4 linked regions of the Homo sapiens genome follow. The protein of the gene in region 4 interacts with the protein of the main gene of each other region in a biochemical or structural test. Each region holds a gene or a part of one and is shown on either strand. Other genes may lie near its edges.

What was found.
Region 1: the proteins of RAF1 (region 4) and RASD2 form a complex in vitro, tested with the Homo sapiens proteins (2 studies listed by BioGRID).
Region 2: the proteins of RAF1 (region 4) and CDC37 form a complex in vitro, tested with the Homo sapiens proteins (2 studies listed by BioGRID, with this or other methods).
Region 3: of the proteins of RAF1 (region 4) and BAD, one has a biochemical effect on the other in vitro, tested with the Homo sapiens proteins (2 studies listed by BioGRID).

The regions. Positions count from the first base shown.
Region 1 is NC_000022.11:35,536,996-35,543,854, reverse strand, and holds the start of RASD2 (GTP-binding protein Rhes precursor), read right to left. Parts: upstream 3,025-6,859; 5' UTR 2,355-3,024; intron 2,349-2,354; exon of another isoform or gene 1,235-2,348; intron 1-1,234. UniProt on the Homo sapiens protein: GTPase signaling protein that binds to and hydrolyzes GTP. Regulates signaling pathways involving G-proteins-coupled receptor and heterotrimeric proteins such as GNB1, GNB2 and GNB3.
Region 2 is NC_000019.10:10,393,538-10,400,562, reverse strand, and holds part of CDC37 (hsp90 co-chaperone Cdc37), read left to right. Parts: intron 1-4,359; coding exon 4,360-4,635; intron 4,636-5,019; coding exon 5,020-5,128; intron 5,129-5,219; coding exon 5,220-5,335; intron 5,336-5,419; coding exon 5,420-5,542; intron 5,543-7,025. UniProt on the Homo sapiens protein: Co-chaperone that binds to numerous kinases and promotes their interaction with the Hsp90 complex, resulting in stabilization and promotion of their activity. Inhibits HSP90AA1 ATPase activity.
Region 3 is NC_000011.10:64,274,656-64,281,680, reverse strand, and holds part of BAD (bcl2-associated agonist of cell death), read left to right. Parts: intron 1-7,025. UniProt on the Homo sapiens protein: Promotes cell death. Successfully competes for the binding to Bcl-X(L), Bcl-2 and Bcl-W, thereby affecting the level of heterodimerization of these proteins with BAX. Can reverse the death repressor activity of Bcl-X(L), but not that of Bcl-2.
Region 4 is NC_000003.12:12,654,106-12,661,130, forward strand, and holds part of RAF1 (RAF proto-oncogene serine/threonine-protein kinase), read right to left. Parts: intron 1-7,025. UniProt on the Homo sapiens protein: Serine/threonine-protein kinase that acts as a regulatory link between the membrane-associated Ras GTPases and the MAPK/ERK cascade, and this critical regulatory link functions as a switch determining cell fate decisions including proliferation, differentiation, apoptosis, survival and oncogenic transformation.

The sequences.
Region 1 (6,859 bases), on a different chromosome or scaffold from region 4:
AGAGAGGAGGCAGGGAGTCAGAGAGGAGGCAAAGAGTCAGAGAGAGGAGGCAAGGTGACAGATAGAGGAGGCAAGGAGTCAGAAATAAGAGACAGGGAATCAGGGTGGGGAAAAAGAGAAAAAAAATCCTCTGTGGTTTTTATCTCTGAGAGAAGACTGATTCTTCACATGGCCTGAGCCACGTGGGGCTGTGTGAGACATCTGGACACCTGGACGCCAGGGGACAGTGCCTCTGTGGGCTCCGCCTCCTGCCTCCACATCTTTCTTCCCTCTCTTCCCCCAGAGGTGGCACCATGGGCACCCTCGTAGGCACATCTCTCCTCTGCAGCCTGTTCTCCCTTCTCCATCCTCAGCCAGGCTGACCTCATACAGCGAGGAGCAGACAGGGATGAGTTTGAAGAGCCCTTTGGGAATTTAGAGTCCAATATCAGTGACTGAATGGATTTCAGGAAGTCAGAGAGAGGAGGCAGGGAATCAGAGAGGGGAAGTAAGGAATCAGAGAGAGGAGGCTCAGAGAGGCAGGAAATTCAACGGAGACCCCCTAGCGGCACAGGTATCTGAATGCACATACTGTGACTACTGACCCCATCACAGGGCCATTCTGAGGACAGGTGGAAGCCAGAAAGTTCCCAGAGCAGAGATGAGGGGACGCCATCCTGGGGGCACAGTAACCACAGCCAGGAAGGCATCCATCAGCCCACTTGACTGATGGGGACACTGATGCTCAGAGAGGTTAAGTCACTTGCCCCAGTTCACACAGCAGATGACTAGCTGGGCTGGGATCAGAACCAGGCTGTTTGGCTTCAAAGTCTGGGCTCTTAACTCTATGAAAACCCACCCCCAGCCAAAACTGGTCTTTTCCAAAACACTGTCTGTCTCAGTGAAGCCTCAGCTGGCATCAGGCGGGGGGATGACGCCGAGACATACTATATTCTCACTCCCTCTCTCCCTGCAGGCAGCGGAGCGGAAAGGGGGCAGGCACCTCCCAGGATTCTCCCCTAACCCTGCCAGCCACCTCTGAGCAAGTGCACCTGTGGATTCACCACTTCTCCCTTGAGCCTCTCTCCCAGGGCCTGCCTGAAAGATGAAGGGGTCACACGGGCACAGGCAGCAGGACAAGAGTCTGGACGTGTCCTCCCGGTGTATGCCCCAGAGCCTGTTTCACTGCACTGCCCCTCCTCCACACCCCCATGCCTCCTCCATCAGTGCACACTCAGCCTCTTTGGACACGCACATTGCCATCACTGGCTTCCAGCTGCCACTCTGAGAGTCCGGGAGCTTGGCAAAGCCAACCCCACCACCCTTGGCAGCTCAGGTGGTAGAAGGTAGGCAGGCATCCACTTCTGGCAGGCCAACTCTGCCTCTCACCAGCCCGGCAGCCCTGGGCAAATGACTTGGCTTCCTGGGGCTCAGGTTATTCCTCTGTTAATGGTAAGACATAAACCCCCTGTGTGGCCCTGGGTTTCCAATAAGTCTGGAGGCTGACCCAGCTCTTGACCCGCAGCAAACCTGAACACATGCTGGGTTCTTTTCTTCGTGGCACTTTATCTTGGCAGTCGTGGGGCTGCCTAGAGCAGCCTGGTGAGGCTGGACTGGAATGCAGGCGCAGGTCTTGCAGGGACCCCATCTTGTCTCTGACACCACAGGAGGCTTGATTCACTGGCTCCTGACCTGGCTGCTCCCTCCCAGCCTGGCTTCCCACCTTCCATGAGGTCTTGGACAACATCCCCTGTCATCCTCCTGGTGCTGGGGACAAGGGGAGGGGAGGGCACAGAGAGGCCTCCAGAGCTGCCTTCCGGGCCCTCCAAGACAGCTAAGTTACAGGAAACCCCTCCTGGGAAGGGAATCATCCAGGAAACTCACTCTGCACCAACCCAGAAAAAGCTCAAGAACTCTGGATAACGAAGGAGCTTCTTAATCTTCCTTCCCCACCTCCAGGTAATGCAGGCTGCAGCCAGCTCCAGAAGAGGGACAGGAGTGTTTGTGGTAGTTGACTCGTCTTCCCTGAGCCCCCGTTTCCTCCTATTTAAATGGGCTATTACTCTAGCTCTTTAAATGCAAAGCCTGTGGCACCAAAACTAGCACATAGTAGAAGCTCAATAAATCTTTCTTTCCTGGGATTAAGTCAAGGGTATAGCACTCAGTTTGACACATACAGTAGGTGCTCAACGAATTTAATTCTCTCTAGGTATGCAAAGTTGCCAGACGATCCCGGCACATAGTAGGTGCTCAATCAATTTCACTTTCTCTGGTCATCTAAGGAATCACTGAGCTTTCCTCCTCCAAGCCTCTACCCTTTCTTCCCGGCTGCTCCACTTCCCCCAGATGCCCAGCTCTGTTGGGGCGTCTCCTACCTGGGAATGGCGGGCCGGGCCTCTGGCACGGCTCAGAGAGCTGCCTGGAAGCGCCGGGAGCTGCGGGGAGCTGCCTGCTGCTCCAGCCGCCGAGCCTCCCAGAGTCTGTGGTGGCTCCCGGGTCACTGCGCGGGGATCCTCCCCTGCGCTGCTCGGGACGCCGGGCTGGGCGCGGCCGGGCAAGGAGGCGCAAGGGGCAGGTGCCCCATGGGTGGGCTCCGAGGGCTCGGCGGGGCCCGGGCAGGGGGCGGGCTCCGGCTCGCCGCCGCCGGCCCTGCCCTGCCCCGAGCCGGGGGCCTCCTGCTGAGCCAGGTGCCCGGAGGCTTGGGGACGTCCGATCCGGGGGTCCCCGCCTGGGGCTCTCGGGCTGGGGGCAGAGAGGTAGGGGCGACTCCAGTGATGAAGGAGCAGCTCCTAGAGACTTGGGGAGGGGGGGTCCTTTGGAGGTGACTGTGGGTGCGTGTCCCAGGTGGGCGAACCCTCCTGGTCGCCTATGCCACCTTCTCCGCCTGCCCCAAAGGGGGTCGCTCGGATGGGGGGTATCGGGCTGCCGGGCTCGGCCGCGGCCTCCTTCTCTGCCCGCGGCTCTGCAGCTCTCCCAGCGCCGGAGGGACGGCTTCTTTCTCCCCGCGCGGCGACGCCAGCAGCTGAAGGAGGAGCAGGGCGCTCTGCTCTGCGCGCGTGTGGGAGGGGGCCTTGAACGCCGCCCCAAGGTTTCGCAGCTCCAAGTTAGCATCAACCCGGCTCCTCCTCCTTCACCTCCTCCTGTCCCCAGATGAGGAGAACTTTGTGTGTGGCCCTGGGTTCTCCCTCCTTCCCCCTCTCGCAGGCAGATGCCCCACTGTCACCCGCAGGGCGAAGAGGTCGCTGATCCCTCCGAAAGGTGGCAGAACCCCAGGCTCCTGATGACGGTCCCAGCGGCACCCTCCCGCGCCCCTGCGAGCGTCGCCCACCTGCTCCTTCGGCCCCCCGCGAGCCGCGCCTCCCGCCGCCCAGCGCCAGCGTCTGCCCCCCAGAGCCCGCTCGCCCCGCCCCACCCCGGCGCCCCGCCTCGCCCCGGCGCCCGGCCAATGGGAGGCGGGTCCCGCGGCCCGGCCCCGCCCATCCCTTTCGCGGCCTCCGGGGCGCCGCGGTCTGCGGTTCCGCGTGTCCGGGCGCGTGGGGCCGGGGCCGCTGGGCGCGCGCACCTTGCCCAGAAGGCGGCCCGGGCCTCGGAGGCTGACGTCTGCGCACGCGCTCACACGCACGCCCGGCCTGGCCGCAGGTGACCCGCATGGGGTCCGGCCGCCTGCCCACTCGGCCGGGGTCTCCAGCGGCTTGCGCCCGGCCAGGTCGAGCGCGCCACGGTTCCAGCGCCCTCCTCCTTCGCGGAAGTCCCCGGGTGCCCTCCCAGGTGTCCAACCTGCCTGTCCCAGCCGCCGCCTCCCTCCCGAGCTCACGGTGCCCACGGGACCCTGCGGACTGGCACATGGGCCATGCACGTGTCGCCCAGAGGGGCGGGGAGTCACCTAGGCTTAGTAGCCAGAGGTCTTCGAGGCATGCGAGTCTCAGAGACCACGGCCGACGGGGACACACCAGGTGCCTTGAGCATTGCGTCTCCTGCCTGCATTCTCCCTCCCCACCTTTAAATGAGGGGCTTGACCTAGGCCAGACATCGGGCCTTCTCACTGGGCCATATCTCCACACCACTTATTACTTAATATATTTTTTAAAATATCAGATCCACTTTCCCCACCCCTTAAACACGTTTTTTTAGAGAATCATTATATCACTGCCTTAAATGGGAAATCAGTATCACTTGCCATAAATAGAAAGTAAGAGTTAAAATAAGCACAGTGAAAACAAAGCAAGGTTATTAAATTCCAGCTGGAAACCGTGGCCTGCCAAGGCTTGAGATGTGTGCCCTCAGTGAAAAAGGGAGATTGGCAAGGTTTGGAGAGGTGTTAAATACCCATTAGCACCTAACAGAGACTTTCTCCTTCACATATCAGGAGGCTTAAAAGAGAATGTTCTCGTTGTGTGATACAGCAAAGGGATGGGATGCTGTGTCTGTGTCCCTCAGTTCCAGATCCCTGGACCTCAGGGATGTCTGCCAGCCTCACCCCCAACCCAGATCTGGCCTCCCTACCTCATGAGAGGACGCAGGGGTCTGGGAGGGCACCTGAGGGGTCAGCTCCATTGGCTGAGAGACTGGCGTTCAAGTCCTGTCTCCGTAACTACCTAGATATCTGACCCTGGGCCGTCATGAAAAGTCTCTGGGTCCTGGTTGTGCCATCTCTAAAATGGGTATGATATTGATGGGTCCACAGAATGACAGAAGTACTAAAATGGCCTGGGACTTTGAATATGGAAAGTGACTTGCTTTGCTTGTCTCTGTAACATCTTGAGATTCTCCAGGAAAGTTAACCAGAGAGGATGGGGCAGGTGGGGGTGGAGGGTGCAGTACCTGTACTACCTGATTGTGTTTAATGCCCCAATTTAGGCCACAGAGGGGCTAAGGGGATGTGCCCAAAGTCACCTGGTGGCAAGTGGCAGGATTGCAGCCTGGTGCATTTTCCACATCCAGACTTTGCCTCTGGGAACTGGCTTCAGCCCGGGAGGGTTTGTGCTGGGCATGACACACACAGGCTGTGAGCCTTGAGCTGGCAGTGAACTTGGCAGTGGGAGGTGAGCAGGGTGGCACGCTTCACCTGGAAGGCTGGGGTCAGGAAGACTCAGGTCGCTGGGCCAGCTCTGCCACCTCCATCACGGAAATGTAGCAGACGGCCCAAGAACCAATTGCTCCCTGCTTCTGCAGAGTTGTTCAACAGAATGGGTCATGTCCCACTGACCATATCCCAGTCGCGAGGGGAGCTGCATGTGGAGTGAGAACCCTGGGAGGTCCACTTGCCCCAGCCTCTGTCTTCTGCTCCTGCCCTCCCCCACTCCTGGTATGGTAGGGCTCAGTCAATAAGCAAATACACATAAGGGATCAACTGATGCCCAAGGAAGCTTTGTGTAGCAACAGCACACTTCTCACATGTGCCTATTTTCCCCTTCCCCCCTCCCCACCCACTTGCTTTATCATCCCTCATCAGACCCTTTGTCATAGCTGCCCCCTTCGTCCCTGGGCTCCCTGTCACCCTCTCTCTCCCATATAACCTGTGACCATTTTAGCCCTGTTCTAAAACTGCCACCTCCTGCTCAAGAGTTTTCAAGGGCTCCCCATTGCTTAAGATATAAAATCTTGGGCTGGGTGTGGTGGCTCACGCCTATAATCCCAGCACTTTGGGAGGCCAAGATGGGAGGATCACTTGAGGCCAATAGTTTGAGACCAGCCTGGCCAACATAGCAAAACCCTACTACTAAAAATATAAAATATAATAATTTTATACTAAAAATATAAAAACTACCCAGGCGTGGTGGTGTGCGCCTATAATTCCAGCTACTCGGGAGGCTGGGACATGAGAATTGCTTGTATCCAGGAGGCAGAGGTTGCAGTGAGCCGAGATCGTGTCACTGTGCTCTAGCCTGGGCGACGGAGCAAGACTCTGTCTCAAAAAAAAAAAAAAGATATAAAGTCTAAAAATCTAAATTCCTTATCCTAGCGAACAAGGCCTCCAACCAGGACGTGATTCCCACCATGCCCTGCACTCAACCTCCATTCCAGCAAAATCAAATCACTTCCGGGTCTCTAAAGAAGAGAAGCTATCCCTCCTCTGAGCTTGTGTATGCTGGTTTCTTATCAGGGATACCCTTTTCTCTGTATTTACCCATCAAACTCCTACACATTCTTCAAAGCACTGTGTCCACACTTCTCCCCACAAAACTTACTCCCAGCCTTTCTAATGGTGTGAATCTCCTCCTCTGGGCTCCCACAGCACCAAAGCCTGGCTCTTGTGCTGTGGGTAACTGGTCCTCTCTTTAAGCCTCAGTTTCTTGGCCTGTAAAAGTGGGTGTTACAATAGTAGCTGCCTCGTGGAGTTGTTGGGAGGATTAAAATAAACTGCGAAGTGCTTCACACATAATGGCCTTCACCATGATTACTTCCTCCGTAGCCGGTGTTACTTCCTGCTTCATATTTTGGACACATGCCTCGTCACCCCCATTAGCATGTGAGCTCTTTTGAGTGGGGACCGAGCCTGATTCATCCTTTTATTCTCACATCATTAAGGGCAGCATCTCACACATTATAAGTTTTTAATAAATGCTTATTGAATTGTGTTCAGCCAAACAGTCTCAGAGCAGAAGAAACGTACAAGCTCTCCTTGGACACAGGGAAGGGTGGACAGACACAGTGAAGCAGAGTTTCACTTAGTCCTCCTAACAGCCCCACTTACAGAAGGGGAAACTGAGGTTCAGGGAGACTGTTCAAAACCAGGCAGCTAATGAGAGGCTGAGCTGGGGTCCAAGAGAAATTATTCCAATAGGAAAAAAAGCACACGTCAGGCTGCTTTTCTAGAACAGCAGTTCCTAATGCTGGCGGCGCATTAGAATCACCTAGGGGAGCTTTTAAAAGATACCAA
Region 2 (7,025 bases), on a different chromosome or scaffold from region 4:
ATGCCTGGTTGATTTTTGTACTTTTTGGTAGAGACAGGGTTTCACCATGTTGCCCAGGCTGGTCTCAAACTGCTGAGCTCAGGCAATCCACCTGCCTCAGCCTCACAAAGTGCTGGGATTGTAGGTGTGAGCCACCAAGCCTGGCCTAAGACCTTGTCTCTTAAAAAAAAAAATTTCAAAGTTTCCAGAAGCGGACAAATGAATCCCTTTTCTCAGCCCCAGCTCGCCGGCTCTCCTGCCCAGAGACAGCTGCTGTTAGTGGTTTCTTCTAATGAGTTGTATGACATTGAGATTCTGTGAGCCTCAGTTTCCCTAACTGTAAGGCAGGAGGGTAGTGACATCTGTGGGCCCTGCTTGCTGGGGTGGCTTCTCCCCTGCCCAGCCTGCTACAGCCCCTCCCCGATAGGAGGTGTAAAGCCCAGGCTGGGCAGGCTGCCGCCCCCGCCAACTCCAAGAGGCCTTTTTTAGCTGCGGCCTCCCTGGCAGTTGTTCAGAGGACACAGGGGAGACTGGTGGCAGCCCAGCAGCGGATTGCAGGGTGGTGGGCAGGCTCCAGGGTGACACAGGCCCATCGTGGAGAAAGGGAGTTGGAGAGGCCACAGCTGCTTTTTTTTTTTTTTTTTTTTTTTTTAAGACGGAGTCTCACTCTGTTGCCCAGACAGGAGTGCAGTGGTGCCATCTCGGCTCACTGTAACCTCCACCTCCCAGGTTCAAGCAATTCTCCTGCCTCAGCCTCCCGAGTAGCTGGGACTACAGGTGCGCGCCACCATGCCCGGCTAATTTTTGTATTTTTTAAGTAGAGATGGGGTTTCACCATGTTGGCCAGGCTGGTCCCGAACTCCTGACCTCATGATCTGCCCGCCTGGCCTCCCAAAGTGTTGGGATTACAGGCATGAGCCACCACACCCAGCAACTTTTTTTTTTTAAGAGATGGAATCTCACTATGTTGCCTAGGCTGGTCTCAAATTCCTGAGCTCAAGTGATCCTCCCACCTCGGCCTCCCAAAGTGCTAGGATTATAGGCATGGGTCACTGTGCCCAGCCTGCAGCTGCTGTTTATCTCATGAGGTATAGCTTTTTTTTTTTTTTTTTTTTTTTTTCAGACAGGGTCATGCTCTGTCGCCCAGGCTGGAGTGCAGTGGGGCGATCTCAGCTCACTACAACTTCTGCCTCGGGTTCAAGCGATTCTGCCTCAGCCTCTGGAGTAGCTGGGATTGCAGGCGCCTGCCACCACGCCTGGCTAATTTTTGTGTTCTTAGGAGAGACGGGGTTTCACCATGTTGGCCAGGCTGGTTTCAAACTCCTGACCTCAGGTGATCCACCCGCTTCGGCCTCCCAAAGTGTTGGGATTACAGGAGTGAGCCACCACGCTCGACCACGTAGGCCTTCTTGACCCCTTATACATATAGGGGAATCCGAGGCTCAGGCTGGCTGTGTCAGTCCCCTGGGGTATTAGAGTAGGGGCCAGCTCTGCCTGGCCCTGCCTTAGAACCTGGGGACACAGCCTCAGATAAGGCACAGGAATGAGTCAGCAGACCATTCAGGTGGCAGTGACAAGGACGGAGATGGTAACAGTGGGACACACCTACTGAGGGCTGTTTTGGAAGCATTTTCCATAGAGTTAGTCATTCAGTTCTCACGGCGATCCTGTGAGACTCCATTTCACAGAGGGGAAGACCAAGGCTGGGAAAGGTTTCAGTGACATGGCCAAAGTTCCATCTCCCGTCAGTGGCACAGCCGGGTGCTGTGACCATGTAGTAACAACCACTCCCAGTTATTGAGCGTGTACTCTGGGCCAGAAATTAAACTAAGCATTTGAAGGACATTTCCTTTTTGAGGCCCCAGAGTGGTCCCCAGAGAGAGAGAGAGATTGTTCTCTTGCACAGATGGTAATGACCCTGGCCAGTACAGGAAGGGTGCGTGCTGAGGGCCCACATGGCTCGGGACATTTTACTCTAATCATCTCCTTAGTTTCTTCCAATATGAGCTTGTGCAGTCAGCATTGTTGACTGTTTGACAGATGAGGAAACTGAGGTTACAGGAGGTTAGGGGATGGCCCGGGATACCCAGCCGGTACATGGTGGCTGTGGGCTAGGACCCAGGGGCCGTTGCCCCAAGGCTGTCCTCCAGCACCCTCACCACATCGTCAGATGGTCACAGGAGGTCCTTTAGGGATCAGTGGTGCCTCAGGCAGGGAGCATTTGGGGAAGGCTCTGTTGAAGCTGAGTTTTGGGTGCAAAAGCAGGTAAGGGAACCGCACATGCAGAGGCCAAGAGGCAAGACAGAGCCCGTACTTTCGGGGAACGATGAGGGCCAGTATCTGCCTGGGACCCAGGACCAGGATGCCAGGATCAGAAGTCCCATCTGAATTCAGACCCCCCAAGATGTAGTGGGGAGGACTCTGGTCACGTGGTCAAATGCATGGGCTTCACAGGCCTCCCTGGTGGCAGCTGTGCCTGGATTGGAGAGGGTCAGCAATTGAAGGTGGTGGCACGTTTCAGGGTTTCAGGGTTTGATTAGTGGCTCTGGATAGAGCAGCCTCCACTGAGGTTCAGGAGAGGTGATGGTGGAGCCACGCAGGGGTCTCAGGAGAGGCCTGTACAATCCGATGGGGCCCAGATGGAGGTCTGAGGGAGACAGGGAGTGAGGCGGGGACCAGGAGCCTGAGGAGATGAGGCACTGTTATAAGGAGAAAGAGGAGTGCCTGGGGAGTGACATCTGGGGCTGGGGTGAGCGGGAAGCAGGTAGACACCAAGCTGGGGCTCAGGAGGGCATGCTGGGCTGGAGACAGAGCTAAGAGGGCCTTGGCAGTGATCCTGGGGCAAGGTTATGGGTGGAACAAAGAAACATCTAGAAGGGGCCCTGGTGCAGTGGCTCATGCCTGTAATCCCAGCACTTTGGGAGGCCAAGGTGGGTGGATCACTTGAGGTCAGGAGTTCAAGACCAGCCAACATGGAGAAACCCCGTCTCTATTAAAAATACAAAATTACCCAGGCGTGGTGGCGCGTGCCTGTAATCCCAGCTACTAAGGAGGCTGAGGCAGGAAAATTGCTTGAACACGGGAGGCAGAGGTTGCAGTGAGCCAAGATCACGCCACTGCACTCCAGCCTGGGCGACTCCGTCTCAAAAAAAAAAAAAAAAAAAAAAAGCCAGGCTTGGTGGTTTGTGTGCACCTGTAGTCCCAGCTACTTGGGGTTGAGGCAGGTTGAGCCTGGGAGATCAAGGCTGCAGTGAGCCATTATCACACCACTGCACTCTAGTCTGCATGACAACAAGACCTTGTTCAAACAAAACTGAACAAAATAAAAACAAAAAAAAAAACAAGCATTTGCTGAGCCCGTGCTTTGCACCAGGCCACGTTCCTGGTTCTGGGAACAAAATGGCGAACACGTTCCCATATTTAGAGAGCAGGGCTTCATTCATTGGAGGGGGGCAGTACCCAAAACGTGATAAATAATTGTCATATGATGTTAGTGGTTGCTGATGTTGAGGAGGCAGGGAATTCCAGACAGGGGCAGCGGGAAGTTGCCATCATCAGGAAGGTGGTTGGGGAAGGGGTCCTCGCTAAGGCAACATGGAGCCCAGATGGCACGGGTGCCATGGAGTCAGCTGTGGGGGGCTCTGAAGGAAAAGCATTCCAAGTAGTTGGAACAGCCAGTGCGAAGGCCTTGAGGTTCAAGAAAAAAGTGGGCTCCGCAGAGTGCAGTAGCTCCCGCCTGTAGTCCCAGCACTTTGGGAGGCCGAGAGGGAAGGATCGCTTGAACCCAGGACTTCAAGACCAGCCTGGGCAACATGGCAAACCCCATCTTTACTGAAAATACAAAAATTAGCTGGGCGTGCTGGTGCACACCTGTAGTCCCAGCTACTTGGGAGACTGAGGTGGGAGGATCGCCTGAGCCCAGGGAGGTCGAGGCTGCAGTATGTCATCATTGGGCCACTGCACTCTGACCTGGACGACAGAGTGAGACCCTGTTTTTTGTTTTGTTTTGTTTTGTTTTCTTAAACAAAAAAAATGGCCTCAAGAAAAGGTGAGAAAAGTGAGGGGCTGGTGTAGCTGGAAGGAAGAGTTACCAGGGGAGGTGCCGAGGCAGATTGTGTAGGGCCCATGTAGGCTGTGGTGACAACTTGGGTTCTGCTGTGAGATGGGAGCCGCCAGGGTTCTGAGCAGAGGACGGAGGGACCTGACCCCACTTGGGTGTGCGCTGGCACCTGTGGGCGCAGGGGCGGAAGCTGGGAGACCAGGGCACGGGAGGTGGACGCGTACTTTTTCCTGGGGCCATCTCCGGTGCAGGGATTGGGTATGGGGCGGGGGTAAGGGACAGACGACTCCCCAGAGTTGATAGGCCGTCCCTGCCCGCAGGCCCGGGTGGAACGCATGGAGCAGTTCCAGAAGGAGAAGGAGGAACTGGACAGGGGCTGCCGCGAGTGCAAGCGCAAGGTGGCCGAGTGCCAGAGGAAACTGAAGGAGCTGGAGGTGGCCGAGGGCGGCAAGGCAGAGCTGGAGCGCCTGCAGGCCGAGGCACAGCAGCTGCGCAAGGAGGAGCGGAGCTGGGAGCAGAAGCTGGAGGAGATGCGCAAGAAGGAGAAGAGCATGCCCTGGAACGTGGACACGCTCAGCAAAGACGGCTTCAGCAAGGTGTGCGGGGCGGGCGGGGCGGGCAGTGCGCATGCGCAGCCAGAGAGCCTGCAACCAGGACGCATGCGCACCCAATGCCTGGTCAGGGGAGGACCCCGGTGGTGTAGTTGAAGAGTGTGGTGGGGGGCGGGGAGCTGAGGGATGGACGGGGGCCACGTGGGAGGGGGGACAGGCTTGGGGGGCCGGGCGGATGAAACACCCCACCGGTCCCCTCCTCTGATCTGCCCCAAGGCCCATGCCCACGCTCCCGCCACCTTGATGCTCATGGCTTCGTCACCACCTCCGCCGTGGATGGGATGGGCGCTGCGACCACGGCCCGCCCGGCCGCGCTCGAGGCGCTCCGCAGCCTTGCCCCAGCCCACTCCCCCTCTCACCCTACCACAGAGCATGGTAAATACCAAGCCCGAGAAGACGGAGGAGGACTCAGAGGAGGTGAGGGAGCAGAAACACAAGACCTTCGTGGAAAAATACGAGAAACAGATCAAGCACTTTGGTGAGTGGGGCTTGTGGGTTATGGGGGGCAAGGTCGAGGCAGGCCCTTTGCCTCCAGGGCCCTCCAGCACCTTGCCAGCATCTTCCCACAGGCATGCTTCGCCGCTGGGATGACAGCCAAAAGTACCTGTCAGACAACGTCCACCTGGTGTGCGAGGAGACAGCCAATTACCTGGTCATTTGGTGCATTGACCTAGAGGTGGAGGAGGTGAGTGGAGCTTTCCCCGGGACTGTGAAAAGGCGCTGCCATGAGGCCGCCACTTGGTGACGCTGTGCCTGTTCTTCCTGGCAGAAATGTGCACTCATGGAGCAGGTGGCCCACCAGACAATCGTCATGCAATTTATCCTGGAGCTGGCCAAGAGCCTAAAGGTGGACCCCCGGGCCTGCTTCCGGCAGTTCTTCACTAAGATTAAGGTAGGGTCCCTGAGCTGCCAGGTGGCTGGAGGCCCCCTCCCCAGGGAACCAGCCCACAATGCTCTAGGTAAGGCCGACTCCTCTCCACTGGGACTCAAGCCCCTCCAGTCACCGCATCCTAGATCAGGAGAGGGTGGGGCCAGGGAGGAGGAGAGAAGTGGGCAGATTCTGCCAGACTTTAAAAGTGGAGGCCGGGCGCAGTGGCTCACGCCTGTAATCCCAGCACTTTGGGAGGCTGAGGTGGGCAGATCACCTGAGGTTGGAAGTTTGAGACCAGCCTAACATGGAGAAACCTCATCTCTACTGAAAATACAAAATTAGCCGGGCATGGTGGTGTGTGCCTGTAATCCCAGCTACTCGGGGGGCTGAGGCAGGAGAATCGCTTGAACCTGGGAGGCAGAGGTTGCTGTGAGCCGAGATCGTGCCATTGCACTTCAGCCTAGGCAACAAGAGCGAAATTCCATCTCAAAAATAAATAAATAAATAAATTAATTAATTAAATAAAAGTGGAGGTCAGGCCAGGCTTGGTGACTGAGTACTATAGTCCCAACTATTTGGGAGGCTGAGGCAGGAGGATCACTTGAGCTCAGGAGTTTGAGCTGTGGTTTGCCACTGCACTGCAGCCTGGGTGACAGAGCAAAACTGCATTACAAAAAAATGTGGGAGCAGTAGGATGTGCTGAAGGTACCCAGGTGAATATGTGGGTAAAGGACAAAGGTGAGGGTGCCTCTAGGGTTTTGGGTTTTAGTTCATTTTTGAGACAGAGTCTTGCTCTGTCACCAAGGCTGGAATGCAGTGGCGTGATCTCAGCTCACTGCAACCCCTGCCTCCCGGGTTCAAGCAATTCTAGTGCTTCAGCCTCCCAAGTAGCTGGGATTACAGGTGCCTGCCAGCCTCAGGGTTTTTTTGTTGTTGTTGTTTTGTTTTTTTTGAGATGGAGTCTCACTCTGTTGCCCAGGCTGGAGTGCAGTAGCACGATCTCGGCTCACTGCAACCTCCGCCTCCTGGGTTCAAGCGATCCTCCAGCCTCAACCTCCTGAGTAGCTGGGACTACAGGCATGTGCCACCATGCCCGGTTAATTTTTTGTATTTTAGTAGAGACGGGGTTTCACCGTGTTAGCCAGGATGTTTTCGAACTCCTGACCTCGTGATCCGCCCGCCTCGGCCTCCCAAAGTGCTGGGATTACAGGCGTGAGCCACCGCGCCCGGCCTAGCCTCTAGGATTTTTAACCTGCGTACCTGGAGGAACAGGGCTATCCTTACCGAGATTAGGGAGACCAAGGACAAGGCAGGCTGGGAGGTGGCCATGTTGAGTTAGAGGTGCCCATGCAGGGACACTGAGGACATGAGTGTCTCAGATCTGCAGTAGAGCAGGGCTCCCAAGCAGGTGGTCTTTGGCAAATGCCAGATGAGGTCCCCGGCGGGGGAGCCCAGGCCTTGGGGAGCCCTTCATGTAGGTCAGGAATAGACTTGGGGAACCGTG
Region 3 (7,025 bases), on a different chromosome or scaffold from region 4:
TGGTCAGCACTCACCTTGGTGAGAAGCACCACTGGAGCCAAGGCCACAGGGATGATGGGAAGAGAGTTCCAGGCAGAGAGAAGGGCAGATGGTAAGGCCTCGAGGGCAACACCTGCTCCTGGCTAGGGTGGGCCTAGGGGAGGGGGTTTAGGAAAGGGTATTTGGAGACCTAAAGTTGAAGGTCATTCTAAGGACTCTGGCATTGCCTTTGAGTAAAAACCTGGAAAGGATTTGAGCAGAGGCAGCATGGTCAGATTTAGACATTCAGAGAGTCACCAGGGAGGTGGTGAGAAGTAGCTGATCCCTGGATTTATTTTTAAAGCAGAACTGGCAGGATCTGCTGATGGACTGGATGTGGGGTGCGAGGGAAAGAGAGGAGTCAGGATGATGCCAAGGAATTTTAAAAAAACTATTAGGCTGGGCGCGGTGGCTCACGCCTATAATCCCAGCACTTTGGTAGTTCGAGGTGGGCAGATCATGAGGTCAGGAGATAGAGACCATTCTGGCTAACACGGTGAACCCCGTCTCCACTAAAAATACAAAAAATTCTCTGGGCGTGGTGGTGGGCGCCTGTAGTCCCAGCTACTCTGGAGGCTGAGGCAGGAGAATGGCGTGAGCCCGGGAGGCGGAGCTTGCAGTGAGCAGAGATTGCACCACTGCACTCCAGCCTGGGTGACAGAGCAAGATTCCGTCTCAAAAAAAAAATTATTATTGGCCGGGCGTGGTGGCTCACACCTGTAATCCCAGCACATCGGGAGGCTGAGGCAGGCAGATCACTTGAGGTCAGGAGTTCAAGAACAGCCTGGCCAACTTGGTGAAATCCTGTCTCTACTACAAATACACAAATTAGCTGGATGTGGTGGTGGGCGCCTGTAATCCCAGCTACCTGAGAGGCTGAGGCAGGAGAATCACTTGAACCCAGGAGGTGGAGGTCGCAGTGAGCTGAAATCCTGCCACTGCACTCCAGCCTGGGTGACAGAGCAAGAGTCCGTCTCAAAAAACAAAAAATAAATAAAAATAAAATAAATTAGGCCAGGCGCGGTGGCTCACGCCTGTAATCCCAGCACTTTGGGAGGCCGAGGCGGGCGGATCACGAGGTCAGGAGATCAAGACCATCCTGGCTAACACGGTGAAACCCCGTCTCTACTAAAAATACAAAAAATTAGCCGGGCGTGGTGGTGGGTGCCTATAGTCCCAGCTACTCGGGAGGCTGAGGCAGGAGAATGGCATGAACCCGGGAGGCAGAGCTTGCAGTGAGCCGAGATGGTGCCACTGCACTCCAGCCTGGGCGACAGAGCAAGACTCCGTCTCAAAAAAAAAAATTATTATTATTATTATTATTATTATTTTATTTTATTTTTGACATGGAGTCTTGCTCTGTCGCCCAGGCTGGAGTGCAGTGGCACCATCTCAGCTCACTGCAAGCTCTGCCTCCCGGGTTCACGCCATTCTCCTGCCTCAGCCTCCAGAGTAGCTCGGACTACAGCCTCCCGCCACCATGCCCAGCTAATTTTTTTGTGTGTTTTTAGTAGAGATGGGGTTTCACCATGTTAGCCAGGATGGTCTCGATCTCCTGACCTTGTGATCCGCCCGCCTTGGCCTCCCAAAGTGCTGGGATTACAGGCGTGAGCCACCGCGCCTGGCCAAATTATTATTAATTTTAGAGACAAGGTCTTGCTATGTTGGCCAGGCTGGTCTTGAGCTCCTGGCCCCAAGTGATCCTCCCACCTTGGCCTCACAAAGTGCTGGGATTACAGGCATGAGCCACAGTGCCCAGCCAACACCAAGGAATCTGGCTTGAGCACCCGGTAGGATGAAGTTGCTTTTAATGGAGAAGAAACACTGAAGGGTGAGGGAGGATCTGGAGGCTACCCTAGAGGGTGGGATAGAGGGGGATTTTTTTTTTTTTTTTTTTTTTGAGATAGAGTCTTACTCTGTCACCCAGGCTGGAGTGCAGTGGCACGATCTCGGCTCACTGCAACTTCCACCTCCTGGGTTCATGCCATTCTCCTGCCTGAGCCTCCCCAGTAGCTGGGATTACAGGCATGCACCATGCCCAGCTAATTTTTGTGTTTTTAGTGGAGACGGGGGTTTCACCATGTTGGCCAGGCTGGTCTCGAATTCCTGACCTCGTGATCCACCCGCCTCAGCCTCCCAAAATGCTGGGATTACAGGCATGAGCCACCGCGTCTGGCCGCTAGAGGTGGCTTTTAAGCATCTGGTGGGATTTTTAGCAGGGTGCTAGTGGGAGCTGGCAGGGACTTGGAGTCTGAACCAGAGTTGTGCTTGTCTCAGTCCAGTTAGGGGTAGGGGCTTCAGGTGTGTGCAAAGGAAGGAATGGTAGATGTGGGGTCCAAGCTGGCTGAGCTTCAGGGAAGGGAGCAAGCCCTGGGAAGCCGCAGCATCGTTGGAGTTGGGGTCCCGGGGGCATGATCCACACAGGTTGGGTCAGCTGGTGGGAAGCTTGGGATGGAGTTATTTGATGGTGACAAGGCCTAGGTTATGTCCCTGGGAATGAGTCTGAGGGGAGAGTGGGACAAGATCATGGTAGAAGGAGTAGCAAGGTACAGAAAGGAGACAGGGTGCTGGTGGAGTGGCAGAGGACAGGAGTAACATTCTGCACAGGCCAGGGACGACACCTCCCCCCAGCCCCAGCTGCAGACCCGTAGGAAAGAGGGCTGCGGGAGAAGACAGCTGCCAGGTGAGGACAGAGCTGGATTTCTTAACCTTTTGATTTAGTTTTCAGTGTCTCCAAAAGCAAGTGGTTTCCCAGAAAAGATCAGCAAGTGCCAGTGCCCCGCCAGAGCCACGGGGCCTCTGCCCTCTCTACCTGCGCAGAGCAACTCACACTTGGTTCGGTCACTCCTCATAGTCCCTGCCACCAGGCCCCCCTGCTGGATGGCTGAGGTGTCCCCAGGGCAGGGACTGCAGCCACCTTGTGCTGTGACAGCCCACACAGCCCAGTGTCTGAAACAGGTGTGGACAGTGGAGAGGCAGAAAGAAGCAGCCCAGTGCTAGCCCCTGGGCCAGACTGCAGGGTTCAAACGTGGCTCTACCCTTCCTAGCAGGTTGAGCTTGAGCAGGTTAATTAACTCCATCTGCCTGAGTTTCCTCATCTGTAAACGGGAATAGAACTAGTCCCACCTCGCAGGGCTGTGGCGAGGACCTGATGAGTTAATATAGGAAAAGTGCTTGGAAACAGTGCCTGGCGCAGAGGAGGGGCTAAGTGTTTGCGGCTCTTATTATTAGAACTGCCATTGTTATTATTTATGTATATATATATTTATATATAAATATATATATATAATTTTTTTTTCCAAGATGGAGCCTCACTCTGTCGCCCAGGCTGGAGTGCAGTGGTGCAATCTCGCCTCGCAGCAACCTCTACCTCCCAGGTTCAAGTGATTTTCTTGCCTTTATGTACATTCTTGGCTTTATATATTTATAAAGCCTCAAATTTCTGGGCTCCAGCCATCCTCCCACCTCAGCTTCCTAAGTAGCTGGGACTACAGGCGCACGCCACCATGCCTGGCTAATTTTTTTATTTTAATTTTTGTAGAGACAAGGGTCTTTCTGTGTTGCTCAGGCTGGTCTCGAACTCCTGGCCTCAAGCAGTCCTTTTGCCTTGGCCTCCCAAAGTGTTGGGATTACAGGCATGAGCCACCACATTGGGCCTATATTTTTAAGTTATGGACAAAAATCCAAAGAACTATATTTTGTAACGTGAACATTCTATGAAATTCAAATTTCAAGGTCCCTAAAGAAAGTGTTAGTGGAACACAGCAAGGTGCAGTGTATTCATTTACACATTGATTATGGTTTCCTTTCAGCTCTGGCCACAAAGGTGAGTGGTTGTCACAGAGACCACGTGGCCCACTGAACCCCCTTTATAGAAAACATTTTCAGCTAACTTAGGAAAAGGGAAAAGAAAGTGAACAAACATTTGCCAGCCAGCCTTTCATACCTGTAATCCCAGCACTCTGGGAGGCCAAGGCAGGAGGATCACTTGAGCTCAGGAGTTCGAGACCAGCCTGGGCAAGATGGCAAGACACTTCTCTAAAAATTTTTTAAATTAAAAAATTAGCCGGGCATGGTGATGCCTGTAGTCCAAGCTACTCAGGAGGCTGAGGTGGGAAGATCGATTGCGCCTAGGATTTTGAGGCTGCAGTAAGCTGAGATCGTGCCACCCCACTCCAGTCTGGGTGACAGAGAGAGACCCTGTCGCTGTTTTTTAAAAACAAAAAGGAAACATTTGCCAACTTTAGAGTACTTTCTGATTTTATGAGCTCTGAGCAAGGTTGGGGGTGTTCTCTGCAGGCCTGAAGGGGCTTCTGTACCGGAAGGCTATAGTCAAGGCTGAGGCCTACAGGTGCCGGAGGCGGACAGGCTGCGAGTGTCTGCCCAGGGTGGGGTGGCAGCACTGGCCACTGTGCTGGCCACTGACGTCAGCCTCCCCCGGCAGCAGATTGTGTGTGGTCGGCATGTGGTAGGGGCAGGATCCAAACCCAGCCCTTGCCTGATGGCAGAGCTTCACTGCTCCAAACGGTCTGGAACACCACTGTTTTAATTAAGTGTGCAATTCAGTGTGCAAGTGTCTTGTAATTAAGTGTGCCTCTGTTTCCTCATCTATAAAACAGGGAGAACTTCGTATTCTCCTTCTTGGGAATCTGAGGACTCTGAAAATCCCAGTGCAGGGATGCTCGCGGAAGCATCAGCAGGGATGTCCGCCCCAGCCGCTGACTCAGAAGCCCAACACGCAGAGAATGTAAAGCTAGAGGTGCCATGCTGGGGCCTGGGGCACTTCTAGCCACAGCCACTACCCTCCACTTCCACACCCAGCTCCGGGCCAGGCTCTAGGCGGATGGCAAGAGTGGGCAGGCCTGGGCACCCACCCACGTTCACACCCAAGGAGGAGCCACACCCCTTCCCTTCCCCAGAGAAGGGAGAGTCTGGCCCAGGCCCTGCCCCAGCCCTCTCCTTCCCCCAGGGAATTCACAGACACTCCCCCAGGGTTTTTCCCTGTAAATAGAACACTTTTTAAAAATTCAATTTAGGGCTGGGCACCGTGGCTCACGCCTGTAATCCCAGCACTTTGGGGGGCCGAGGCACTTGGATTGCCTGAGGTCAGGAGTTAAAGACCAGCCCGACCAACATGGTGAAACCCCGTCTCTACTAAAAATACAAAAATTAGCTGGGCATGGTGGCGGGCACCTGTAATCCCAGCTACCCAGGAGGCTGAGGCAGGAGAATCATTTGAACCTGGTGAGCAGAGGTTGCAGTGAGCCAAGATCACATCACTGTACTCCAGCCTGGGTGACAAAGCAAGACTCCCTCTAAAAAAAAAAAAATACATATATATATATATACACACACACACACACAAATATATACACACACACACACATAAATATATGTATATTTGTATTTACATATATATAATTCAATTTACACAAATGGGTATCATCTTGATAACAACTAGCTTGGCTAAGTCCACGAATTTGGTGAAAAACTCCCACCCCATAGGACAGGTTCCTGGCAGAACTGGTGCTAGCAGAAGGCCCAAAGGGGCCTTCCCCAGCCTAGGCCTCCAAGGCAGCCCAAGGTACAGCTGGAAGGAGCCTGGGGCATGACAGCTAAGCACACAGCCCCTGAAGCCACATTGGTTGGGTTGGGATCCCAGCTCTGCTACCTACTAGATCAGTGACCTTGGGCAAGTTACCTATGCTCTCTGCCTTAGTTTCTTCCTCTGTAAAATGGCAACCATGAGGAACCTCCCTGATAGGGTGTGGCAAGGATCAAATGAATGAATACACAGGGAGGGCTTCCGACCATCCACCATACCTGCCCAGTGTCTTCTGCTTGTTCTGATCCCTGGGCAAGGGGCAGTGCCCAGGCCAAGTGCCTGGGTGCAAGTCACTCACCTTCCACCTGTGGGGCCTTGTGTCCGGCAAGCGTAGTGGTCCTGTGGCCCCACTCAGAGCTAGTGGAGGAGAACAGCTGCCGTTTCCTGCGTATTTAGGTGGCTAAGCAGGCTGTCCCAGCCACACGGCCTCAGGCAAGTTCTTAACCTCTGCCTCTGTTTCCTCATCTGTACAACAGGGAGAGCTGGATATTCACCTGGCTGGGACTCTCAGAGGCCTCAGGCTATGAGGGGCCGGTAGGGGGCTTTCCTGCTCTCATTTGTTGTCATGGCGATCCTGGCAGATGGGGAACTGCCCCCATTTCACAGAAGACACTGGGGCCCCAAAGGGTTGGAGAATGGGCTAAGGTCAGAGCAGGAATGTGGCCAGGGCCTGGCCCACCTAGCTGACCCCTGCTCCACAGTCACCGCACCACAGAACTGGAAATTACTCTGCAGACAGGCCTGTTCCGTCAGTGCCCCTTCTGTTCCCGGCTCTCCTGCCCCTATCCGAAATCCTTCAGCCTCCCAAGGTGCTGGGATTATAGGCATGAGCCGCCACGCCTGGCTGTCATCTGTAATCTTTACTCCTGACCTAGTATGCCTCTCCCCACTGCCACCTCACTCCTCCAGGGTCTTGAGGTATCCCCACCTGACCTGGGGGCAGCTCTGGGCTTTGGTGATGCTCAGAATGCCCAGGCACTCTGATCACAGCCTATCTTACCCTAGGCCTTTCCGGATTCCGTCCTCTCGTTCCCTTACTCGCTTTTTTTTTTTTTTTTTTTTTTTGAGACAAAGTCTCACTCTGTCTCCCAGACTGCCAGACTGGAGTGCAATGGTGAGATCTCAGCTCACTGCAACCTCCGCCTCCCAGGTTCAAGTGATTCTTGTGCCTTAACCTCCCTAGTAGCTGGGACTACAGGCCCACACCACCATGCCTGGCTAGTTTCTTTTTTTTTTTGAGACAGAGTCTCACTCTGCCACCCAGGCTGGAGTGCAGTGGTGCAATCTCGGCTCACTGCAACCTCTGCCTCCTGGGTTCAAGTGATTCTCCCGCCTCAGCCTCCTGAGTAGCTGGGATTACAGGCTCGCGCCACCACACCTGGCTAATTTTTGTGTTTTTAGT
Region 4 (7,025 bases):
CTCAGCCTACCAAGTAGCTGGGACTACAGGCGCATACCACATGCCTGACTAGTTTTTTTGGTTTTAGAGATGGGGTCTCACTATGATGCCCAGGCTGGTTTTGAACTCCTGGCCTCAAGCAATCCTCCCTCCTTGGCCTCCCAAAGTGCTGGGATTATAGGCATGAGCCACAGAGGCTGGCCCTAAATACATTATAGAATAAAAAAGTATGAGAGGCCAGGCACAGTGGCTCATGCCTATAATCCCAGCATTTTGGGAGGCCAAGGCGGGAGAATCACTTGAGCTCAGCACTTCGACATCAGCCTGGGCAACATGGCAAAACCCCATCTCTACAAAAAATACAAAAATTAGCTGAGTGTGGTGGCACACACCTGTAGTCCCAGCTACTCAGCAGGTTCAGGAGGGAAGATGGCTTGTGCCTGGGAGGTCAAGGCTACGGTGAGTGGAGATCGCACCACTGCACTCCAGCCTGGGCAATGGAGTGAGACTGTGTCACTCACAACACAAAAAAAGGGTATGAGTATAAAGTAACTACAACTGTGTGTATCAACTTATAGAAAAACTTTATTCATTTTTTTTTTTGCTTATTTTTCTTCTTACACCTCACAAGGATGAAAGAAAGTGTTCTTTTTAAAAAGATGTCATTAATTGTGTACATAATGTATCCCTTTGAACAACATTATACACAAGTTTAAGAGGGAGGAAAAAACCCATCAGATCCAAATATAGCCAAATTCAAAGGTTCTGGTTTGCCCATTACATCTAAGTAGCAATAAGAAGAAAAGGAGGGCTGGGCGCAGTGGCTCAAGCCTGTAATCCCAGTACTTTAGGAGGCTAAAATGGGAGGATCAATGGAGGCCAGGAGTTCGAGACCAACCTGGTAAACATAGTGAGACCCCCCCCCCGCCATCTCTAAAATAGTAAAAATAATAATTTTTTAAAATGCAAAAAGCCTACAACCACTTCACAGTCATTAGGGTTGTTATTTTATTTATTTATTTTTTGAGACGAAGTCTCACTCTTGTGGAGTGCAATGGCGCAATCTCAGCTCACTGCAACCTCTGCCTCCCGAGTTCAAGCGATTCTCCTGCCTCAACCTCCCAAGTAGCTGGGATTACAGGCATGCGCCAACAAGCCCAGCGAATTTTTTTTGTACTTTTAGTAGAGACGGGGTTTCACCATGTTGGCCAGGCTGGTCTCGAACTCCTGACCTCAGGTGATCCGCCCGCCTCGGCCTCCCAAAGTGCTGGGATTACAGGCATGAGCCACCGTGCCCAGCCCAAGATTGTTACTTTAAAAATTAAAAAAGAAAAAATAACAAGTGTTGGAAAAGATGTGGCAAAACTGGAACCCTTGTGCTTTGCTGGTGGGAAATGTAAAATGGTGCAGTCACTGTGCAAAACAGTTTGGCAGTTCCTCAAAAAGTAAACACAGAATTACCATATGATCCAGTAATTCTACTCCTGTGCATTACCCTAAGGCACTGAAAGCAGGGGCTCCAACAGATATTTGTACACCAATGTTCACTGCAGCATTATTTACAACAACCAAAAGGTGGAAATAATCCAAGTGTCCATCACTGATGAGGAGATAAACAAAATGATATATTCATACAATGAAATATTATTCAGCCATAAAAAGGAATAAAATACAGATACATGCCACCACCACATGGATAAACCTCAAAAATGTGCTAAGTAAAATAAGCCAGACAAAAAAGGCCAGATAGTGTATGACTCCCCTTACATGAGGTACCTGGAATAGGCAAATTCATAGAGAGAAAGTAGAATAGGGGTTACGAGGAACTGGGCATAGGGAGGAATGAGGAGTTCTTGCTTAATGAGTACTGTTTCTGTTTGAGGTAACAAAAAGGTTCTGGAAACGAGTAGTGGCGATGGTTTTAAGACATTGTGAATGTTGTTAAATGTCACTGGATTGTAGATACACACACACACACCCCACCCCCAATCCGCCCCCTTCCAACTTACATAAGACAGCCTAGGGGTCCATTTTGCATTGTCAGGCAATACTAGATAATACTAGCCAGGGAAATCACAATCTCTCCTCTCAAAATCACACTATAATGCTGGACCAGACTAAGGTCAAAAATGGTAGAAGATTATCATTTATCCCCCCATTCTCTCTGGGTATAACTTTCTTCCATATCTAAAACCTATGAATGCAAAAGGAAATAGCCAGCATGGTAACAGCTGCTTGAGCTGAAGAGTCAGTGTCCTGCTAAAGCAGGCAAATGTCATCAAGGAGCTAGCAGGCAGAACCTAGAGCACTCTACATATAATGCCCAATAGAGGGAGAAGCTTAAGCAACTTACCTCCTCCAACAGACAGGTCCTAAGTTACAAAGTTCTAAGTTTGAATTTAGTAAGTGTAGCCTCTTTACTGTAAGCATTTTGGAGAGATGGCAGTAGAGTGAAACTAAATCCATAAGTGATTAACCTCTGATTAATGTTTGCTGTGTAAGACAAGGTTTTGAGAACTGGAGATATATAAAAAAGGATAAGACATGCCCCACTGGAAATATATAGGCAAGAGTAAGACATGCCTCATTTTTAAACTGAGACATAAGACATCTATACAAGAAATTCAACTTGGCCACTGCGGTGGCTCACACCTGTAATCCCAGCATTCTGGGAGGCTGAGACAGGTGGATCATCTGCAGTCAGGAGTTCAAGACCAGTCTGGCCAACATCATGAAACCCCATCTCTACTAAAAATACAAAATTTAGCCGGGCGTGGTGGCAGATGCCTGTAATCCCTGCTACTTGGGAAGCTGAGACAGGAGAATCACTTGAACCCGGGAGACAGAGGTTGCAGTGAACCAACATCACGCCACTGTACGCCAGCCTTTGTGATAAGAGTGAAACTCCATCTCGGGGAAAAAAAAAAAAAAGAGGAATAGATAAAAGTAAGGAAATGTCAGCCTCTCTCAATTAGATAAGGTCCTTGAAGGTAGGAACTTGCCTTATGCTGCACCAAGTGCACTGGCCTGCACCTACAGGGGCCTAAAAATACTGGCTTTTGATTTCCACTAAACATACTATTACTATGAGAAAGCCATGTGAGCAAGACACAGAAGCAAGAATTGTATATACTTAGTCTGGTAGCCAGGGAGAGCCTGGAAGATTTGAGCAAGAAAGTAAGGCCAGCACATCTACCCTTAAATATTTTTGTGTCGTCACAAAATAGGATACATAAGAATTCACATTTCCCTCTGTGAAAGGAAGCTGGGTAGCTAGAGAACAAAGGAGAACGTAGAATAACTATGCACAACATAACTTTCTATATCCTTTAAATTTTGTGACATCTGACATTATTACTTACTCAAAGAAAATAATATTTAATTCTTAAGAATTTCCAGGCAGGGGCCAGGCGCAGTGGCTCACACCTGTAAATCCCAGCACTTTGGGAGGCCGAGGTGGGCAGATTACCTGAGGTCGGGAGTTCGAGACCAGTCTCACTATCATGGAGAAACCCCATCTCTACTAAAAATACAAAATTAGTCGGGCATGGTGGTGCATGCCTGTAACCCCAGCTACTCAGGAGGCTGAGGCAGGAGAATCGCTTGAACCCAAGGCAGAGGTTGCGGTGAGCTGAGATTGTGCACCACTGCACTCCAGCCTGGGCAACAAGAGCAAAACATCTCAAAAAAAAAAAAGTACACAATAAAATGGCTTTTATTATATTCACAGTTGTGGATCCATCTCCATAATTGTAGAACACTTTTATCACCCAAAAAAAAAACAAAACAAAACAAAACAAAACAAAAAAAAACCCTATCACAGTCACTGACCATTCCCTACATCCCTCAGCCCCTGATCTACTTTCTGTCACTAAGGATTTTCCTATTCTGGACATTACATATAAATGGAATAATTCAATATGTGGTCTTTCCTGCATGGTTTCTTTTACTTAATATGTTTCCAATGTTGTAGTATACACCAGTACATCCTTTCTTTTTATTACTGAGTAACATTCCATCACATAGTAGTGCTTCCATATCCACTTGGAATATGTTCCAAGACTACCAATGAATGCCTGAAAGCAAGAACAGTATACTATACTGTATACACTATGTTTTTTCCTGTACATACATACCCATGATCAAGTTTAACATATAAATTAGGCACAGTGAGAGATTAATTATAATTAATAATGGAACAATTATAAGAACATAATATCATAAAAGTTATGTGAGGGCTGGGCGTGGTGGCTCACGCCTGTAATCCCAGCACTTTGGGAGGCTGAGGCAGGCAGATCACCTGAGTTAGGGAGTTCAAGACCAGCATGACCAACACAGTGAAACCCTGTCTCTACTAAAAATACAAAATTAGCCAGGTGTGGTGGCGCATGCCTGTAATCCCAGCTACTCAGGAGGCTGAGGCAGGAGAATCGCTTGAACCCAGGAGGCAGAGGCTGTGGTGAGGAAAGATCATGCCACTGCACTCCAGCCTGGGCAACAAGAACGAAACTCCGTCTCAAAAAAAACAAAAAAAGAAACAAACAAAATTGACTGCCACTGCCTGCTGCTTCCCATTTATTAACAAAAAATGTAAACAACCTCTAAATCATAAAGATTTTAAAACCGTAAACTAGCTTTAGGATTGTTAAGCCCCACCCAGTAAAACCCCTTAGAATCTGGTCTAAAAATAAAACCGTGTGTCAAGTGTTCCTCAAAAAATGCTATGTACACTGATTGGAATGTGATGCCAATTAACATACTTTGTGAGTAATTTGCCAAACTTTAGATAGTCTAGGCCAAAACCACTAACAAAGAAACAACACCCACTTGACATTTTCCTTAGTTAAGCTGAGATTCTAGGGGTCATTTTAGAAGAAAGGCAAACAGATGTGAAATTAACTAAAATCATTTAGAGCTACGCAAGTCATTCTGGGAGAAAAGAAGTAACAAAATGACTCAAACATTGTAAAATTAAAGATCAAACCTTAATGTGTAATTAAGGAATTTTTACTTACAACTCTAAGGCAAGAAAAAAATAGCCATTACTATCATGAGAATTACAAGGCAAGATGCCTGAGCGAGCCTGTAATGCCAGCACTTTGGGAAGCCGAGGCAGGTGGATCACTTGAGGTCAGGAGTTCAAGACCAGCCTGGCCAACATGGTGAAACCTCGTCTCTACTAAAAATACAAAAATTAGCCAGGCAAGGTGGCCGGCGCCTGTAATCCCAGCTACTCGGGAGGCTGAGGCATGAGAATCCCTTGAACCTGGGAGACGGAGGTTGTAGTGAGCCAAGATCACACCACTGCACTCCAGCCTGGGCAACAGCACCAGATTTCATCTCAAAAAAAAAAAAAAAAAATTACACGCAAGATAAGTTAGCCCTATACCAAAAGTACCAACTGAATTGCAACACAAATATCTAGTATTACATTTTGAACCCAGTCAGATGAGCAATTAGGAATTCTACCCTCCCATACACATACCAAACAACCTCATCCTAAATAAACCCAGTGTTCTCTGATTTTCCAATTAATTTATTCAAGGTAAGTAATTTTCCACCTCATAGTCATTTGTTTTGAAGAAATGACTCCCAAGATCTGAACAACTTAAAAACAAAAACTAAGTCAAAAAGCTCAATTTTATGGTTTCATAAACCCCCTCACTGTCACATTATCCACTGCCTTTCAAAGGCAATATTTAAAATTGTCTTCTGCAAGTCAACATTAAGGCATGCTGTTTGGCTAACAAGCTCCTCCCAAGCTCAAGATTATTATGTATGGCCTATTATGATCCTAACATGCAAACAAAAGTACTCCCTCATGTAACATTTTTTTAGGCAGTAGGTTACTAACAAAGATTTACCTGAAATTTAAATGTAGAATCATACATTTACTAGTAATAGACTACCTGAAATAGTAGTTTAAAGTTATCAATTATATTTTTTATTTCGTAAATAATCCAGTGCTTCTGGAAAAGTCAAATTTAACTTCCAAGAAGTATGAACTTGCTTAATCTTCAGAGCAAACAAATGACATGTTATAAACTAAAAGCTACTAGTCTAAGAGCAACTGTAATATAATACTTGATGTTTAACATTCTTCACTTCATCTTTTAGATACTTTTTGTCAGAAATTACCAGCTTAATCTGCTTCTCACTGTTTTTTTCAGCTAAACCAAATCCCATAAAATACGTTCAAGCCTTCTATTGAAGGCACACTTTTTTTTTTTGAGACAGGGTCTCACTCCATCACCAACACTGGAGTACAGTGGCATGAACATGGCTCACTGCAGCCTCAATCTCCCTGGGCTCAGGTGAGCCTTTCACCTCAGCCTCCCAAGCAGCTGGGACTACAGGCATACTACACCATACCCTGCTGATTTTTTTCTTTTTGTGTGTGTGTATTTTTTGTAGGGACAGGTTTTCACCATGTTGCCCAGGCTGGTCTCAAACTCCTGAGCTCTAGCAATTCACCAGCCTCGGCCTCCCAAAGTGCTGGGCTTACAGGCCTGAGCCACCACAACTGGCTGATGTTTTTACAACTACTGACAAGACTTTAACAAAACTAAGGAACTCCACTACAATTTATAATCACAAAACACCACATATCAGCCAGGCACAGTGGCTCACGCCTGTAATCCCAGCACTTTGCAAGGCCAAGGCGGGTAGATCACAAGGTCAGGAGTTCAAGACCAGCCTGGCTAATATGGTGAAATCCCGTCTCTACTAAAAACATAAAAGTTGGCTAGGCGTGGTGGCAGGCGCCTGTAGTCCCAGCTACTCAGGAGGCTGAGGCAGGAGAATGCTTAAACCCAGGAGGCAGAGGTCGCAGTGAGCCAAGATCGCACCACTGCGCTAAAAAAACACCACATATCTTTAAAAGATAAGCCTTTAGTACAGAAACAGTAACAGGTTTATTTTTCCAAGTATCCCAGCATTCAACTGGGTCAAATGTTTATGTTGCATTTTAAACAGCTTAGCCCTTGAGTGATAAGGGTAAAAACAAGCCAAAATAATCCTGAATGTTCTTCAGTGGTATATAATCA